Linked DNA regions of Homo sapiens: region 2 is linked to region 1. A link means that fine-mapping ties the variant in region 1 to the expression of a gene that starts in the linked region. Tissue or cell type: whole blood. Region 1 holds a variant in brackets; the other region holds the start of a gene. All regions are shown on one strand. Distances are from middle to middle.

Region 1 (8,000 bases):
GTCTCCACAAAAGACCCAGGAGGACAGGGTTTGGGGAACGTCCAGATAACTGAACACATGGGGCCGACAGGAAGGTGAACAGGAACTCCTCTATGTGCAGGGAGGGTGGAGCACCCCAACTCCACGGCGACGGAAGCTCCTGCTCTCGGGGCCCTTCCAGACCCCACCTTGTGCGTTTCTTCATCGGGCTGTCTTTCTATGCTTTTAAATATTCTTTGTGATAAATCGGTAAAAGTGTTTCCCTGAGTTCTGTGAGCCTCTCTAGCAAATTAATCAAGCCCAAAGAGGGCGGTGGTGGGAACCCCAATTTAATGCCATTTGGTGACACCTTCCAGAGGCCTGGACTCACGACTGGTGGGAAGTGTGGGGCAGTCTTGTGGGACTGAGCCCCCAGCCTGTGGATCTGGGGCTAACTGCAGGTAGACAGCCTCAGAAGCGAACTGAAAGGGAGAACACCCAGCCGGTGTCTGTGGCAAAGCTGAGGGCTTGCTCGGTGTGCGGGAGACACAGCTGACTGCCTGCTCCGTGTGCAGGAAAAACGGAGCTGGCCGCTTGCTGGGTGTGCGGGGAGAAACAGAACTCCTCTGTGTCTGTTGCAAAGCTGGCTGCTTGCTTGGTGTGCGGGAGAAACAGAAGTTCTCTGTGCTGATTATTACTGTGCAGTGAGACCAGAGGGAACACGGTTTGAGTTTTTCCACTTTCTCAATGCCACTGAACTGTTCAATTGAAAATGGTTAAGATGGTAAATTTTCCTTGTGTTTTTTTTTTTTTTTAATTTTCCTTGTTCTTGACAGCCAGTTTTGGGGGGAAAAAAAGATGGAGCCGGGTGCAGTGACTCGCGCCTGTAATCCCAGCACTTTGGGAGGTGGAGACTGGGAAGATCCCTTGAACCCAGGAGGTCGAGGCTGCAGTGAACCCCAATTGCCCCACTGCACTCCAGCCTGGGCAACAGAGCGAGACGCTGTCTCAAAAACAAAACACAACAGGCTGGGCGCGGTGGCTCCCGCCTGTAATCCCAGCACTTTGGGAGGCCGAGGCGGGCAGATCACAAGGTCAGGAGATCGAGACCATCCTGGCTAACACAGTAAAACCCCGTCTCTACTAAAAATACAAAAAAAAAAATCAGCCGGGCGTGGTGGCGGGCGCCTGCAGTCCCAGCTACTCGGGAGGCCGAGGCAGGAGAATGGCGTGAACCCGGGAGGCGGAGCTTGCAGTGAGCCGAGATCGCGCCACTGCACTCCAGCCTGGGCGACAGAGCGAGACTCCGCCTCAAAAACAAAACAAAACAAAACAAAACAAAACAAAACCAAAAACAATGATGGACCATTGAGCTGTGGAACATATCAGGAAACTTACCCAGGACGATGAGGTTGTGAGTGACTTATTTTGGGAACTTCCTGACAGTCGTTGCCTAGGACCTGTGAGCGGACAGCACAGCTGGGCTCAGTCTCCAGACTCACTCCAAACCCTTCTTATGTCCATCAGTCCCGAACCACTTCCGTCCCAAACATGCCCAATCCTAACGAAGCCTCCTGAAGACTCACCTGAAGCCACACCCCAAAACCTTCCACACGCCCACCCCGGCCCTGCTTTCCCCTCAGACCCCGTGAAGACCCTCAGGCGGGATTCCCGCTCCGGCAATGGCGCCCACTCAGACCCCGTGAAGACCCTCAGGCGGGATTCCCGCTCCGGCAATGGCGCCCACTCAGACCCCGCGAAGACCCTCAGGCGGGTTCCGGCTCCGGCAATGGCGCCCACTCAGATGCTGTGAAGACCCTCAGGCGGGGTTCCGGATCCGGCAATGGCGCCCACTCAGACCCCGTGAAGACCCTCAGGCGGGTTCCGGATCCGGCAATGGCGCCCACTCAGACCCCGCGAAGACCCTCAGGCGGGGTTCCGGATCCGGCAATGGCGCCCACTCAGACCCCGTGAAGACCCTCAGGCGGGTTCCGGATCCGGCAATGGCGCCCACTCAGACCCCGTGAAGACCCTCAGGAGGGGTTCCGGATCCGGCAATGGCGCCCACTCAGACCCCGTGAAGACCCTCAGGCGGGTTCCCGCTCCGGCAATGGCGCCCACTCAGACCCCGCGAAGACCCTCAGGCGGGGTTCCGGATCCGGCAATGGCGCCCACTCAGACCCCGTGAAGACCCTCAGGCGGGTTCCGGATCCGGCAATGGCGCCCACTCAGACCCCGTGAAGACCCTCAGGAGGGGTTCCGGATCCAGCAATGGCGCCCACTCAGACCCCGTGACGACCCTCAGGCGGGTTCCGGCTCCGGCAATGGCGCCCTCTCAGACCCCGTGAAGACCCTCAGGTGGGATTCCCGCTCCGGCAATGGCGCCCACTCAGACCCCGCGAAGACCCTCAGGCGGGTTCCGGCTCCGGCAATGGCGCCCACTCAGACCCCGTGAAGACCCTCAGGCGGGTTCCCGCTCCGGCAATGGCGCCCACTCAGACCCCGTGAAGACCCTCAGGCGGGGTTCCGGATCCGGCAATGGCGCCCACTCAGACCCCGCGAAGACCCTCAGGCGGGGTTCCGGATCCGGCAATGCCGCCCACTCAGACCCCGCGAAGACCCTCAGGCGGGTTCCGGATCCGGCAATGGCGCCCACTCAGACCCCGTGAAGACCCTCAGGCGGGGTTCCGGATCCGGCAATGGCGCCCACTCAGACCCCGTGAAGACCCTCAGGCGGGGTTCCGGATCCGGCAATGGCGCCCACTCAGACCCCGTGACGACCCTCAGGCGGGTTCCGGCTCCGGCAATGGCGCCCTCTCAGACCCCGTGAAGACCCTCAGGTGGGATTCCCGCTCCGGCAATGGCGCCCACTCAGACCCCGCGAAGACCCTCAGGCGGGTTCCGGCTCCGGCAATGGCGCCCACTCAGACCCCGTGAAGACCCTCAGGCGGGTTCCCGCTCCGGCAATGGCGCCCACTCAGACCCCGTGAAGACCCTCAGGCGGGGTTCCGGATCCGGCAATGGCGCCCACTCAGACCCCGCGAAGACCCTCAGGCGGGGTTCCGGATCCGGCAATGGCGCCCACTCAGACCCCGCGAAGACCCTCAGGCGGGTTCCGGATCCGGCAATGGCGCCCACTCAGACCCCGTGACGACCCTCAGGCGGGGTTCCGGATCCGGCAATGGCGCCCACTCAGACCCCGTGAAGACCCTCAGGCGGGTTCCGGCTCCGGCAATGGCGCCCACTCAGACCCCGTGAAGACCCTCAGGCGGGTTCCCGCTCCGGCAATGGCGCCCACTCAGACCCCGTGAAGACCCTCAGGCGGGTTCCGGCTCCGGCAATGGCGCCCACTCAGACCCCGTGAAGACCCTCAGGCGGGTTCCCGCTCCGGCAATGGCGCCCACTCGGCTGTGTCAACGACCCGTGGCTTCGTGGCTGTCCTGGGAGCCAGCGCTTTCACGCTTGCACACTTCTATAAATAGTTATACATTTTTTTGAGACAGGGTCTGGCTGGGTTGCCTAGGCTGTAGTGCAGTGGTGTGATCACAGCAACCTCCATCTCCTGCACTCAAGTGATCCTCCTGCCTCAGTCTCCCAAGTAGCTGAGACTACAGGCACGTGCTACCGTGCCCAGCTAATTTTTGTGTGTGTCTGTTTTTTTTTTTT[C/TC]TAGACAGAGTCTCGCTCTGTCACCAAGGCTGGAATGCAGTGCCGCAGTCTTGGCTCACTGCAACCTCCACACCTCGGGTTCAAGAGATTCTCCTGCCTCAGCTTCCCAGGTAGCTGGTATTGCAGGTGCCTGCCACCACTCCTGGATAATTTTTGTATTTTAGTAGAGACGGGTTTTCACCATGTTGCCCAGGCTGGTTTCAAACTCCTGAGCTCAAATAATGCATCTGCCTCAGCCTCCCAAAGTGCTAGGATTGCAGGTGTGAGCCACTGCACCTGGCCCAGTACATCTTTGTTAAACAAAAAATCTAGTGAGCAGAGTGGCACTGGTATCCACGTTTGCAAAATCTCCATCATGCCGGTTTCCTAGGCCCAGGGGTCCTCCTCCCGGGGCCTGCCTAGGCCTCTGGGAATCATTGTTCTAGGAGAAGTATGTGAGGAAAATCTGGCTTCATCCAGATTTGTAGTCGGAACAGGGAAGGGCACCCTGATAGCCTTTCTGGATCATTGTGGACCTTCTGTGACTGGCTCTTAGGCCCATGAGTGATGCTGGAATGTCCCGCCTTGGTCGTGGGGTTTCCCAGACCCCCAAGTGCTGACCCCTCCAATTTCAATAAGGAACATGCACGCTCCCTAACTGAGCCTATCAGAAGGAGCTTCAGGGCCAGGCACGGTGGTTCACGCCTGTAATCCCAGCACTTTGGGAGGCCGAGGCAGGCAGATCATGAGGTCCCAGCTACAAGGTCGGGCCACTGCACTCCAGCCTGGGTGACAGAGTGAGACTCGGTCTCAAAAAAAAAAAAAAAAAAGAGCTTCAGGTGGTGGAGCAGCCTTGCCTATGATGGCAGTTTCCAAAACTCAAATGTCCACTGGAAAATGCAGATTTATCACGGCAGCGAAGAGGGTCCGTTGTTTTCACTTTGTTCATTTTGGAGACAATGACTACCCACGTCTCGACACAAGAGGTTCTTTCAAGTAACCTGGGGAAGCTGGCCAGGTCAGTCACGGCTGGGACATGGCTCCCAGCTCTTCCCCGGGCAGCCCCAACACCTAGGCAGCAGGCGCCCGGGACGCCGGATGCTTACGCTTCCAGGTGAGACTGCATCAAATCAGTGACGTTTGCTGATTTGACTGTGTGTGTCGGGGAAGAATGGGGGCTGCTCATATTCGAGCAAAGGTGAGTGCGGTTGAGAAGGCAGGCTTCTGTGTTTCACGGGGCTGCCATGGCAAACGCCGCACACTGGGTGGTGTGAACAACAGACGCGTCTCCTCTCTTGGTTCTAGAGGCTGGAGTCTGAGATGCAGGCGTGGCCAGGGCTGGTTCCTTCGAGGCTGTGTGGAAATCTCTGCTCTGGGCCTCTCCAGGCTTCTGTGGGAGCTGCCGCTCCGTGTTGCTCCTTAGCATGTAGAAACCTCCCCCTCCTCCGGTGATCACCCCGATCGTGTCTGTGTCCACGTTTCCCCTTTTTATCTGTTGTTTTAATTTTTTTTTGCCCAGGCTGGAGTGCAGTGGTGGGATCTTGGCTCACTGCAACCTCCACCTCCCAGGTTCAAGCGATTCTCCTGTCTCAAGCCTCCTGAGTAGCTGGGATTACAGGTGCCCGCCACCACGCCCGGCTAATTTTTGTATTTTTAGTAGAGATGGGGTTTCACCATGTTGGCCAGGATGGTCTCGAACTCTTGACCTCAAGTGATCTGCCCGCCTTGGCCTCCCAAAGTGCTGGGATTACAGGTGTGAGCCACCTCACCCGGCCTCCCCTTTTGATATATTAGGGCTACCGTACTCCAGCATGGCCTCATCTTAATTACATCTGCAGTGACCCAAATAGGGCAACAGTCTGAGTTGCTGGGACAAGGACTGAAATATGAATTTCTGAAGGACATAATTCAACCCAGAGCACCTTTTTTTTTGAGACAGCGTCTTGCTCTGTCACCCAGGCTGGAGTTGCAGTGGCACCATCACAGCTCATTGCAGCCTTGAACTCCTGAGCTGAAACAATTCTCTCGAATCAGCCTCCTAAGTAGCTGGGACTACAGATGCACATCACCACACCTGGCTAATTTTTACATTTCTTTTTGAGACGGAGTCTTACTCTGTTGCCCAGGCTGGAGTGCAGTGGCGTGATCTCGGCTCACTGCAAGCTCTGCCTCCCGGGTTCACGCCATTCTCCTGCCTCAGCCTCCCGAGTAGCTGGGACTACAGGCGCCCGCCACCAGGCCAGGCTAATTTTTTGTATTTTTTGTAGAGATGGGGTTTCACTGTATTAGCCAGGATGGTCTCGATCTCCTGACCTTGTGGTCCGCCCGCCTCGGCCTCCCAAAGTGCTGGGATTACAGGTGTGAGCCACTGCGCCTCACCAATTTTTAAATTTTTAGTAGAGACAGGGTCTCGGTATGTTGCCCAGGCTAATCTCAAATTCCTGGGCTCAAACAATCTACCTGCTTTGGCCTCCCAAAGCACTGGGATTACAGGTGTGAGCCACGTGCCTGGCCTGCTTCTCAAGTCTTGCTATAAAAACAGTGTAGAGGGCCGGGCACGGTGGCTCACGCCTTTAATCCCAGCACTTTGGGAGGCCAAGGTGGGCGGATCACCTGAGGTCAGGAGTTCAAGATCAGCCTGACCAACATGGAGAAACCCCGTCTCTACTAAAAATACAAAACTAGCCAGGCGTGGTGGCAAGCGCCTGTAATCCCAGCTACTCGGGAGGCTGAGGCAGGAGAATCACTTGACCCAGGAGCCGGAGGTTGCGGTGAGCTGAGATCACGCCACTGCACTCCAGCCTGGGCAACAAGAGCAAAACTCTGTCTCAAAAAACAAGCAAACAAACAAACACCGTCTGGAGCTCACAATGCCCTGAAAGGGTCTTAGGTCTCCCAGAGACTGTCCTTGGTGTCTGCTCTGCTTGCCAGTCAGCATCCCCTCCAAGTGGCCGTCAGTGAATGCGAGTCTTTTAAAAAAATGTTTTCATTAAAAAAATTTTTTTTTGGCTGGGTGCAGTGGCTCACGCCTGTAATCCCAGCACTTTGGGAGGCCAAGGCAGGTTGATCACGAGGTCAGGAGATTGAGACCACTACATGGTGAAACCCCGTCTCTACTAAAAATACAAAAAATTATCCGGACGTGGTAGCACCCACCTGTAGTCTCAGCTACTTGGGAGGCTGAGGTAGGAGAATCAATTGAACCTGGGAGGCGGGGGTTGCAGTGAGCCGAGACTGCGCCACTGCACTCCAGCCTGGGTGACAGAGCAAAACTCTATCTAAAAAAAAAAAAAATTTTTTTTTGAGACAGGATCTCACTGTGTCGCCCAGGCTGGAATGCAGTGGTGCCATCTCAGCTCACTGCAACCTCTGCCTCCCAGGCTCGAGGGATCCTCCCCACTCAGCCTCCCGAGTAGCACAGGCAGTGAGACCACAGGCACTCACCAGCACGCCTGGCTAATTTAATAACTTTTTTTCTTTTCTTTTCTTTTTTTTGAGACAGAGTCTCTCTCTGTTGCCCAGGCTGGAGTGCAGTGGCATGATCTCTGCTCACGCAGTGGCGTGATCTCTGCTGACTGCAACCTCTGCCTCCCAGGTTCAAGCAATTCTCGTGCCTCAGCCTCCTCAGTAGCTGGGACTACAGGTGCCCGCCACCATGCCCAGCTAATTTTTTGTACTTTTAGTAGAGACGAGGTTTCGCCGTGTTAGCCAGGATAGTCTCAATCTCCTGACCTCGTGATCTGCCCACCTTGGCCTCCCAAAGTGCTGGGATAACAGGCATGAGCCACCGTGCCCGGCCTAATAATTTTTTTTTGTAGAGACAGGGTCTAGCCATTTGCCCAGGCTGGTCTCGAACCCCTGGGCTCAAGCTATCCTTTTGCCTTGGCCTCCCAAAGTGCTGGGATTACAGGTGTGAGCTACTGCGCCCGGCTGCAAGTCTTTAATTTTGCCAAAATCAAACTCATTGACTCCCTTTTTAAAATTTTCATTATTTTATTTTTGAAACAGAGTTTTGCTCTTTTGCTGGAGTGAAGTGGCATGATTTTGGTTCACTGCAACCTCTGCCCCCTGGGTTCAAGTGAGTCTCCTCCCTCAACCTCCCAAGTAGCTGGGATTACAGGCACGCGCCACCATGCCCGGCTAATTTTTGTATTTTTAGTAGAGATGGGGTTTCACCATGTTGGCCAGGCTAGTCTCGAACTCCTGACCTCAGGTGATCCACCTGCCTCGGCCTTCCAAAGTGCTGGGATTACAGGCGTGAGCTGCCGCGCCTGGTATCCACTGCTTTTGAAGTTTTGTACAGAAAATTCTTCTTCCCCTTTGTCACATGGATATCCTGGCATCTTCTGTGAACTTGGTCGTTTTGCCTCTCATGACGTCTAGTACTGCTGGGGCTG
Region 2 (8,000 bases), 29 kb after region 1:
CCCCGGACTGGCTCATGGTGTCTTGGGTGGCGGCCAGCGGGAGAAGGGCAGACCTCAGTGTGGCCCCGGTCTGAGGCCAGTGCCTGTCCCACACCTGGGTGGACAGAAGGGCTGCGCTGACACTTCCTCCGGCCTGGCTGGTTCCTCCCCTCCTTCCCTGGGCCAGATCCCTGACTGGCCTGGCCTGGGTGGGGGTCCCTTGGGGGGCAGAGCCCCTGCCCGACATCCCAGTTGGCCCCACGTCCCAGTTGGCCCCACGTCCCAGTTGACAGTCGATCAGCCTCGTCATGCCTCAGACCCTAGGTGCTCCACAGGGACCCCCCAGAGGCTGACTGGGAGGCTCTGACAAGGGCCCTGGGGGCAGAAGGCGCCTTCCAAGCTGGGCAGCATGGAGTTTAAGGCCCTGGTGCTGTGGGGAGGGGGGTGGGATGGGTAAGGGGAGGGGGATGAGGTGGGAGTGTGGGGGGAGGGGGGTGCGGTGGGGGTTGGGGGAGGGCGGGTGGGAGCTGCAGGATGGCAGGAGAGGTGAGGCTGGAGTTGGGGTAGGTCCTGAAGTCCAGAGGGAGCCCGGCTCTAGCCGCCACTCCTGCCCCACCCCAGGCCTGCACCCCAAGGGGCTCCTGCACCCACATGTGGACTTGCCACCCACACATGCCACCTCTGTCCAGGCCCCAGCAAAGAGGCTGGCCCTTGGCTCTTTCCTGGGCCTGGGAGACCTGGCAGGGAAGAGGCTGTGCGGGCAGGAAACCCTGGGGTCCCCGGGGTGCAGTGTTTCCTCACCTCGAGGGCAGGGATGCGGCCAGGTGGCCAGCGCAGAACCCCTGGCAGCAGCCAAGCCTAGGGGAGGGACTGGAGGGCAGGTGTGGTGGGGGCTGAGACTGGGAGCCAGTCCAGTGGCCCCAACACACAGTATCACTGCCCCTCCAACGAGGTAGGGTGGCTATGGGGCAGGTGCCTCTGGCCTCCCCCAGGGGCAGAATCCTCAGAGCCTGTCTCTGGGCTCCTAGTGCTGACCTCTTCCCCGAGCATTTTGGGGAAACTAAGGCCCAGCCGCCAGGGCAGACAGGTGGGTCTGATTTGGGCTGGACCCTAGGGGCTTCCCGGGGGGATGGACAGAGCCTGATGGCCCTGAACCAGGCTGACTTGTCCCAAGGGGACTATGCCCTGTGGGGACCTGGCTGTTCTGTGGCTCTGTGATCAGCTCCCCACAGGTCCACACCATCTGCCTCCTGCCAGGGCTGCAGGGCTGTCCCCTGTGGCTTCAGAGTTTGGGTCTGCCACGGTGGGGGTCACCAGCCACTGCTGTTGGTATGGAGGGTCAAGGGAGTGGCTCGGAGCACCCGGGACTTTCTGGTTTGACCAGGTCTGGCCTAGTGGGAGGGTCTGGGAGGCCCGGGGGCACTGCCGCTGACATGAGGGGCTGGGTGCACCAGGGGGTATGGCCACTTCCTCCATCCATCTATCCGTGGAGAATGTCTGGAATGTTCACGGGCTCAGTGGCGAGCCTGAGTGTTTGCTTAATGGGATTCCTGGCGGGCTCCACCAAGGGCGCCAGGCACGTGTGTCCAGGCACACACCTGGGCGAGACACCAACGCACCCTTGCAGACTCAGGCCTGGGGGCACGCAAACATGGAGGGCTGTGACACGCGACCCCCCTGGGGAAGGCCAGGTTCCTGGCCTTCGGTTGCCTGCAGGGCATCGGGGACCTCAGGCCCAGGCAGGGCCGGGCAGCAGTGGGGTGGGTCCAGGTGTGGTGTCTGGGTCTGAAGCACATGGGTATGGGGCTGCCTCCTGCCCTGTGGGAGCCCCGCCCCCCTGGGGAGGCTTCTTTGGCCCACTGGTGGTGGGGACGAAGCCCTGGAGGCCCAGGCTGCACTTTGTACTGTGGTCATTTTCCCGGTGTGAAGTGAGGCAGAGCGGGGTGCCCGGTCAGTCGGGCTGTGGAGGGGAGGAGGTCCCAGCAGGGCAGGAGGGTAGAGGGACGGGCTCCAAGTTCAAGTTCCAGCTCCACATGCTGAGTGACCTTGGGGAGGGGTCAGCTGAGTCACAGGGGCTCCAGGCTGCCCTCATAGGCGCTGGGTGGGGCCCTGGAATGGGGAGGCCCCTCAGGCCCTGGCCCTGTCCTTGTTTGGAAGCTATGGCTTGAGGGAGGAAGGGATAAGCTGGGGAAGCTGAGGGTGGGAAAGGAGACCGAGGCAGGCGGAGAAGGCCCGGTGGGAGAGCTATGCCAACAAGGCCTGGGTGCTAAGCAGGCCCGGGAGAGGCTGGGACCCAGGAGGGGCCGCGAGGGGAGGAGGGGCCGCGAGGGGAGGGGCCGCCGCCAGCTGGGCCTGCCTCCCAGCACAGCCGACCCAGGACTGAGCACGGGGTGGGTGGGGGCAGAGGTCCGGGCATGCCCGGCCCTGCCTCCCCCTCCCCTGCCACCAGGGACACCCCGCAGCAAGGGGCAACGCCAGGCAGCTGGACGCAGGGACCAGGAATCTAGGATGGCTGAAGTTCGCGTGCCCACAGGCTCCTGCCAGCCCACCCTCCTGCCTCTCCTGGCAGGGCCTCTGCAGCCCCTGTCCCAGCCTCCCCTCCTCCCTGAAACTCCCACCCCCAACCCTGACCTGGAGACTGACCCAGCTGGTGCTTCCCGGCCACTGGTTTCCTTCTGGGCTCCGACACCCAGGAAGTGCCTCCTGGCTCCGGCCCACAGGGAGTGGGTGTGCAGTGCTACCTCCACGGTCAGGCCCTCGGGAGGGTCCTGCTGCTCACAGAACCGGGAGAAGCCTCCCTACCACCAGCGCTCTCCGGACGCAGGGATTGCCCCCACCAAGCCCCAGAGCTGGGAGTGGGCAGGACGGGGCAGGTGAGTCACCCATCGCTGGCTTAAAAATATCCTTGCTCGCCGGCCGCCGCCCAGGACCGACGGGGGCAGGCCGGGCTGCAGCAGGACCCGTCCAGGAGAGGTGGGGACTCGACCAGGCCCCCAGCCCCTTGCCCCGCGCCCTCGGCCCGGCCGCCCTCCAAGTGCCCCGCGCCCTGCGACGCCGCGTTCGTCCCGGTGTCCTGAACCAGAAGCCCCGCGTCCCATCGCCACCGGGTAAACTGAGGCCCGGGCGGGCGCGCTCCCCCGTGTCCGCAGCGCTCACCTGCCTCCGGCGCCCCGCGCTCGGCCTGTCCCCTCGGCGCTCGCCGGTGCGTCCGTCTGTTCGCGCCTCGGCCGGGGCGCCAGGTCTCCCGCGGGCGGGTGGGACGCTCGGCGGGGCCGGGCCGGGGCGGGGCCGGGAGAGGAGGAACCTGAGCGACAGGTTGCGGAGTCACCCGAGAGCGGGCGGGCGCGCGGGGGAGGAGGGCGTGGGATGGAGGCGCCCCCGCCGGCCTCGGACCCAGCTCCGCCCCGCCCCCTGCCCCGCCTGGGCTCCAGCCCCAGCCCTCTGCGTCCTCCCCAACACCCGCCTGGTGTGCCCCTCCGCGGGCCTAGCCCCTAGAGCTGGGGCGCTGGGGACAGGCGGGGCGCAGGGCCGCCTCCGCGGGATGAGCAGGGCGAGGCCTCGAGCTCTTCCTTGGGCAGGGCCTAGCTGCGCCCCAGCAGGCCGGGGGACGGGGGAACGCTGCCAATGGGACTTCGGGGGCAGCGCTGGCGCATTGCTGGGGAGGGCTCCAGCCCTGGGGAGGTCAGAGCCTCCGCCGGGCCAGGTGCACCCCTCAGGTGCCCCAGGCATGGGGCAGAGTCACTTCCCTTACCGGGCCCACCGCAGGCCCAGGGGCAGAGGCTTCGGTGAGTGGGTGGGTGTCAGGCAGGACCCAGCCATGCCCACCCCAGGCCTGGAGCCCTGAGTTCACAGTGCAGCTGCTCCTCCAGGCCCCCCTTTCTGCCCAGCCTGGGCACTGAGGGATGGGGTGTCAGGGGAGGTGGGGACACCTCAGGCCCTCTCAGGATGCCTCTCTCCTTGCACTGCCCCGTGGTCAGGCCCAGGCCCCACCTCTGCCCACCACAGTGGGACTGTCTGGTTCCGTCCTCATCTGCCCGGCTTCCAGGATGGCCCTTCTCCCCAGCTGCTGTGACCGCTCAGAACAGGGCCAGGGTGCAGTGGACACAGCGGGTAGCACCGGCTGCCACAGCAGTCAACTGGACGAGGACGAGGTGAAGGGGCACAGGGCGCCCCAGGCCCATGCAGGGACCCAAGGCTCCGGCTGCCGGTCCTGGGTAGGGGTGGGAATGAGCGTGGCCAAGAGTCTGGGTCCCCGGGCTATGGTCCCAGAGGGGCAGGGCTAGCGTGTTTACCCTGGGCTGGCCGGAGCACTTCCTGGGGAGGCGCCATAGGTGAGCTCGGTGGAGGGCTGGCAGGAAGTGGCCCTCCTCCTTCGGGCCCAGTGCCTGCCCCTGAGCCCAGGCAAGACCTGGCTTCCTGGTTTACAGCCTTTGCCGTTTGATCTCCAGGAACCTGCCGTGATCCTGCTCCATGCATGAGCTTGCCCTGACCCAGAGCTCAGGGTCACACACGCCAACCCCTCGGTGCACCCGTGCCCTCACCCTTCCTGGAGGCAGAGCTGGGAGTGGCCAAGTGGGAAACAGGCGCTGGAGAGGACAGCTGGGGGGTGGGGTCCCTCTCCACTCCTAAACGGGTGCCTGTCAACACGATTTTGAGTGCGGAGCCTGCCCTCAGGAGACAGTCCAGGCTGGCCTCTCGGGCCCCATCCACTCCGGGTCACCTGGAGCCATGGCGTTCCCTGTGGAACAGGTGACCACTGCCTTTGTGTGCTCGCTGAGACTGGAGGTATCAGGATCCATTAACCATGAAGGCAACAGGTCTCCAGCTTCAGGGAGGGGGTCCTTCCCTGGTCTGCATGGTTTGTGGGCTGGGTCCTCCAGATGGCAGGTGTGCCCAGCTGGTCTTCTGCGAGTGCAGGCGCTGGTGAGGGAGGTGGCCCGAGGCGCTCAGGCGCTGGTGTGTGAAGTGGGTCCTCAGGGCTGTCCTGCAGCTCACCGTGGCCACTGGGGGCCACAGACAGGTCAAAGGAAGTCGGCCCAGGACAACTGGGTGCTCCCACCGCTTCCACGAAGACAGGCAGGAAAGACTGTCCAGGTGCCACAGCCACAGCCACCCCAGCCGAGGGAGCCCCAGTGGAGGCCCAGGACAGTCCCGCAGCCTCCTGCCCTCAGGAGTCCACCGAGCGGAAGGCGCCCGGCAGCCAGGGCCCGAGGGCGAGGCCAGCCAGGAACTGACCAGCTGGCAAGTGGGGTGTGCTCTCTTGCAGGGCAGGAGAACTGGAGATGGGGTGGGGGAGGTGGCCATAATTAGGAGAATTCAGGGAGGCATACACATCTCTTTATTTACAAAATGCGGTGAAGAGAAAATATCTAGATATTTGGGTGTAATTATTCCAAACATAGAAAACACACAATAGAATCAAGTGAAGGGAAAGCTACTGTAACAGCTTAGATACTTTTTAAGGAGAACTGATAGTAAATCTGGGAATGGGAAAAAAACACAGAGCTAGAATTTGTTTAGCACTCCGTGCAAAAGGCAAAAGCTGATAAAACTGGAGTGGACGGAGGCTCCGAATGTGGCCCTCCGCTGCTCTCTCTCCTGCAGTCTCATCCCCGGCCTTAGCCCTGACCTCTCCTCCGAAGCCCCTGAAGGGAGAAGTGTGGCTAAGATGGAAATTGCTAGGCAGCAGAGCTGTTGGCTTGTTTGCATTTATTGCTTTAGGAACCCAGAGTCCACTCTTGCACCGGGCCTGCCTGCCTGTGAGGCAGAGCTGGGGTTGCTCAGAGCACAAGGCCTACCCCATCCTGCGTCTCCAGCCCGACTTGGAAACACAGGTGGGGCCTGGCCACGGAGTAAACTGGGATCTCAGAACACAAATTAGGACCATTGGGGAACTAGGGGGTGATGGGGGATGCAGTGAGATGAGGCCTCTGTTCTGAAGGGCTCTGTCCTCCCTCTCGGCCCTGGGGGCCCATGGGGGTCTGTGGAGGCCTGGCTGCTAAAGCCAGACCCCACTGACAGGGCTGAGTGTGCGCTCCTGGGACTCATCTTGAAGGCAGTTCTGTCTGGTCCCTACCCTCCCCGCAGCTGTTCCCAACACCAGGGCCTCCAGCAGTTTGTTCTGCCCTGGCTCCTGCTCCCACTCCTGCCAGAACAGATGGAACCATCCAAAACCATCTATGGCCAGTCACTAGGAAAAGTGCCCTTCCTGTCCAGGAATGGGGAGGTGACAGCTGGGGGACTGGTCAGGCCCAGGAGGAGGGCCCCAGTGTGGGGTATCCCGGGTGTCCGTAGCTACCTGGTGAAGGCCGCGATGGCAACCACCTGCAGGACGGCCTCCAGGCCGTGAAGGGCCAGGAGCGTGGCGCTGAGGGCCCAGTCCGCCCACAACACTAGGGCCTGCCAAAGCAGGAAGTGGGCAGAGAGGAGGGCGGTGCCAGCCGTGAGGGCCAGGCTGGCGGCCAGCGGCCTCTCAGCCTCTGTCAGGTTGCCCCTGGTGCCTGGAGAACAGAGCAAAGGGGAGGGAAGGTGGTGCGAGGCGCTCCCTGGAGCCCACCGCCCACAGGTGCCTGGAGGGCTGCTGGGACCAGAGCAGCTCCTTGCCCTACGTTCCTCCGGGGCCTGGGGAATTCCAGGGAAACAGCCTCCATGGCCACCCAGAACTCAGGAGAGCCAGAGAGCATGGGCAACACAGGCGTGAGCCCCTCCTGGGGGAGGTGCCCCTGCAACAGCATGGTTTGATCTGTCTCTGGGTCTTCTGGGTCGGCTGTGTGGGCGGGGGTGAATTTGGTTTCTAAAATGATTCAAGTGCATCTGCCACGTTTTCCTAATTCCAAGTGGAACTGAAGGGATTTTTTTGAAAAATTCCCAAAGTATTTTTCTCTGGTCCAAGGCCAGTTCTGGAAAATTTCACGAGTATGTATTAAAAACAAAACTGCGTATTTAGCAAACAAATGGGTCAGTCACTAGCTGAGCCCAGGTGCCTGGAGACCCTGCAGTGTGCGGCGCGCTTGGGGAGGGTCCCGTTGGCCTAGCAGCCCCCAGCAGGGCCAGGCCACACCCTGTCCCCACCACCTCAGGGCAGGCCCAGGCCCCAGAAGATCAGCCAAGAACCGGGCCTCTGTGCCGCAGCGGTGCTCGCACCCTCCCAGCAGTGCCCGCCCTGGGGGGCAAGCTCTAGAGGTTCTGGGACGTAAGTGCAGACAAGACACTGACGGCCGGGCACCCCTCAGTGGGATGGGCAGCTGAGAGAACTCGCCTCCATCCTCCTAGTGTGTCTGAGGCCTGATAACAAGAGGAAGGGTGGGGGCCACCCTTCCCCGCAGCCTTGGTTCCTCACTGGACATCAGGCATCAGGGGTGTATCTGTATGTGAACAAGAGGGGCCCAAGATTCCAGCCTGGCAGGGGCACAGCGCCCTGGAAGTGCCCATTGCGTTCCCCACGGCAGGACAATGTTTCACAAACACGTGTGTTTAGGTGCACATGTTACGACCATGAGCACGCAGAGGGCTGGAAGTCTGCACCCCGCTGGCCACAGAGGTGAGCTCTGGGGAGGGCGAATTTCCATGTTTTACTTCTGCACCCCTTGAATCTTGTACAAGAACATACCCTTGAACAAATTGTGTGGTTAAAAAAAGGGGAGTGAGGCCAGGCACTTTGGGAGGCCAAGGTGGGCAGATTGCTTGAGCCCAAGAGTTCAAGACCAACCAGGGTAACATAGCGAAACCCTGTCTCCGGCCGGGCGCGGTGGCTCACGCCTGTAATCCCAGCACTTTGGGAGGCCGAGGTGGGCGGATCAGGAGGTCAGGAGATGGAAACCATCCTGGCTAACATGGTGAAACCCCATCTCTACTAAAAATACAAAAATGAGCCGGGCGTGGTGGCGGGCACCTGTAGTCCCAGTTACTCGGGAGGCTGAGACAGGAGACTGGCGTGAACCCGGGAGGCGGAGCTTGCAGTGAGCCAAGTTCACGCCACTGCACTCCAGCCTGGGCGACAGAGCGAGACTCTGTCTCAAAAA

Evidence for each region. PIP is the estimated chance that this variant, and not a neighbour inherited with it, causes the effect.
Region 2: EPS8L2 starts here. The variant in region 1 is fine-mapped to the expression of EPS8L2 in whole blood (INTERVAL, PIP above 0.99).

The regions. Positions count from the first base shown.
Region 1 is chr11:730,094-738,093 of GRCh38, reverse strand. It overlaps LOC105376509 (a long non-coding RNA gene), which reads right to left and starts at 1,570. Exons shown (of 3, transcript XR_930962.3): 1 at 1,357-1,570. RefSeq lists enhancers at 2,441-2,941, 2,942-3,442. The variant C/TC (reference allele first, on the strand shown) is at 3,625.
Region 2 is chr11:701,424-709,423 of GRCh38, reverse strand. EPS8L2 (EPS8 signaling adaptor L2) reads right to left here and starts at 3,193. Exons shown (of 21, transcript NM_022772.4): 1 at 3,136-3,193; 2 at 1-94. The coding sequence starts at 16. It overlaps TMEM80 (transmembrane protein 80), which reads right to left. Exons shown (of 5, transcript NM_001042463.3): 5 at 5,295-6,479. The coding sequence ends at 6,274. It also overlaps a transcript of DEAF1 not described here. RefSeq lists enhancers at 643-1,570, 1,571-2,497, 4,353-5,280 and a silencer at 3,247-3,376.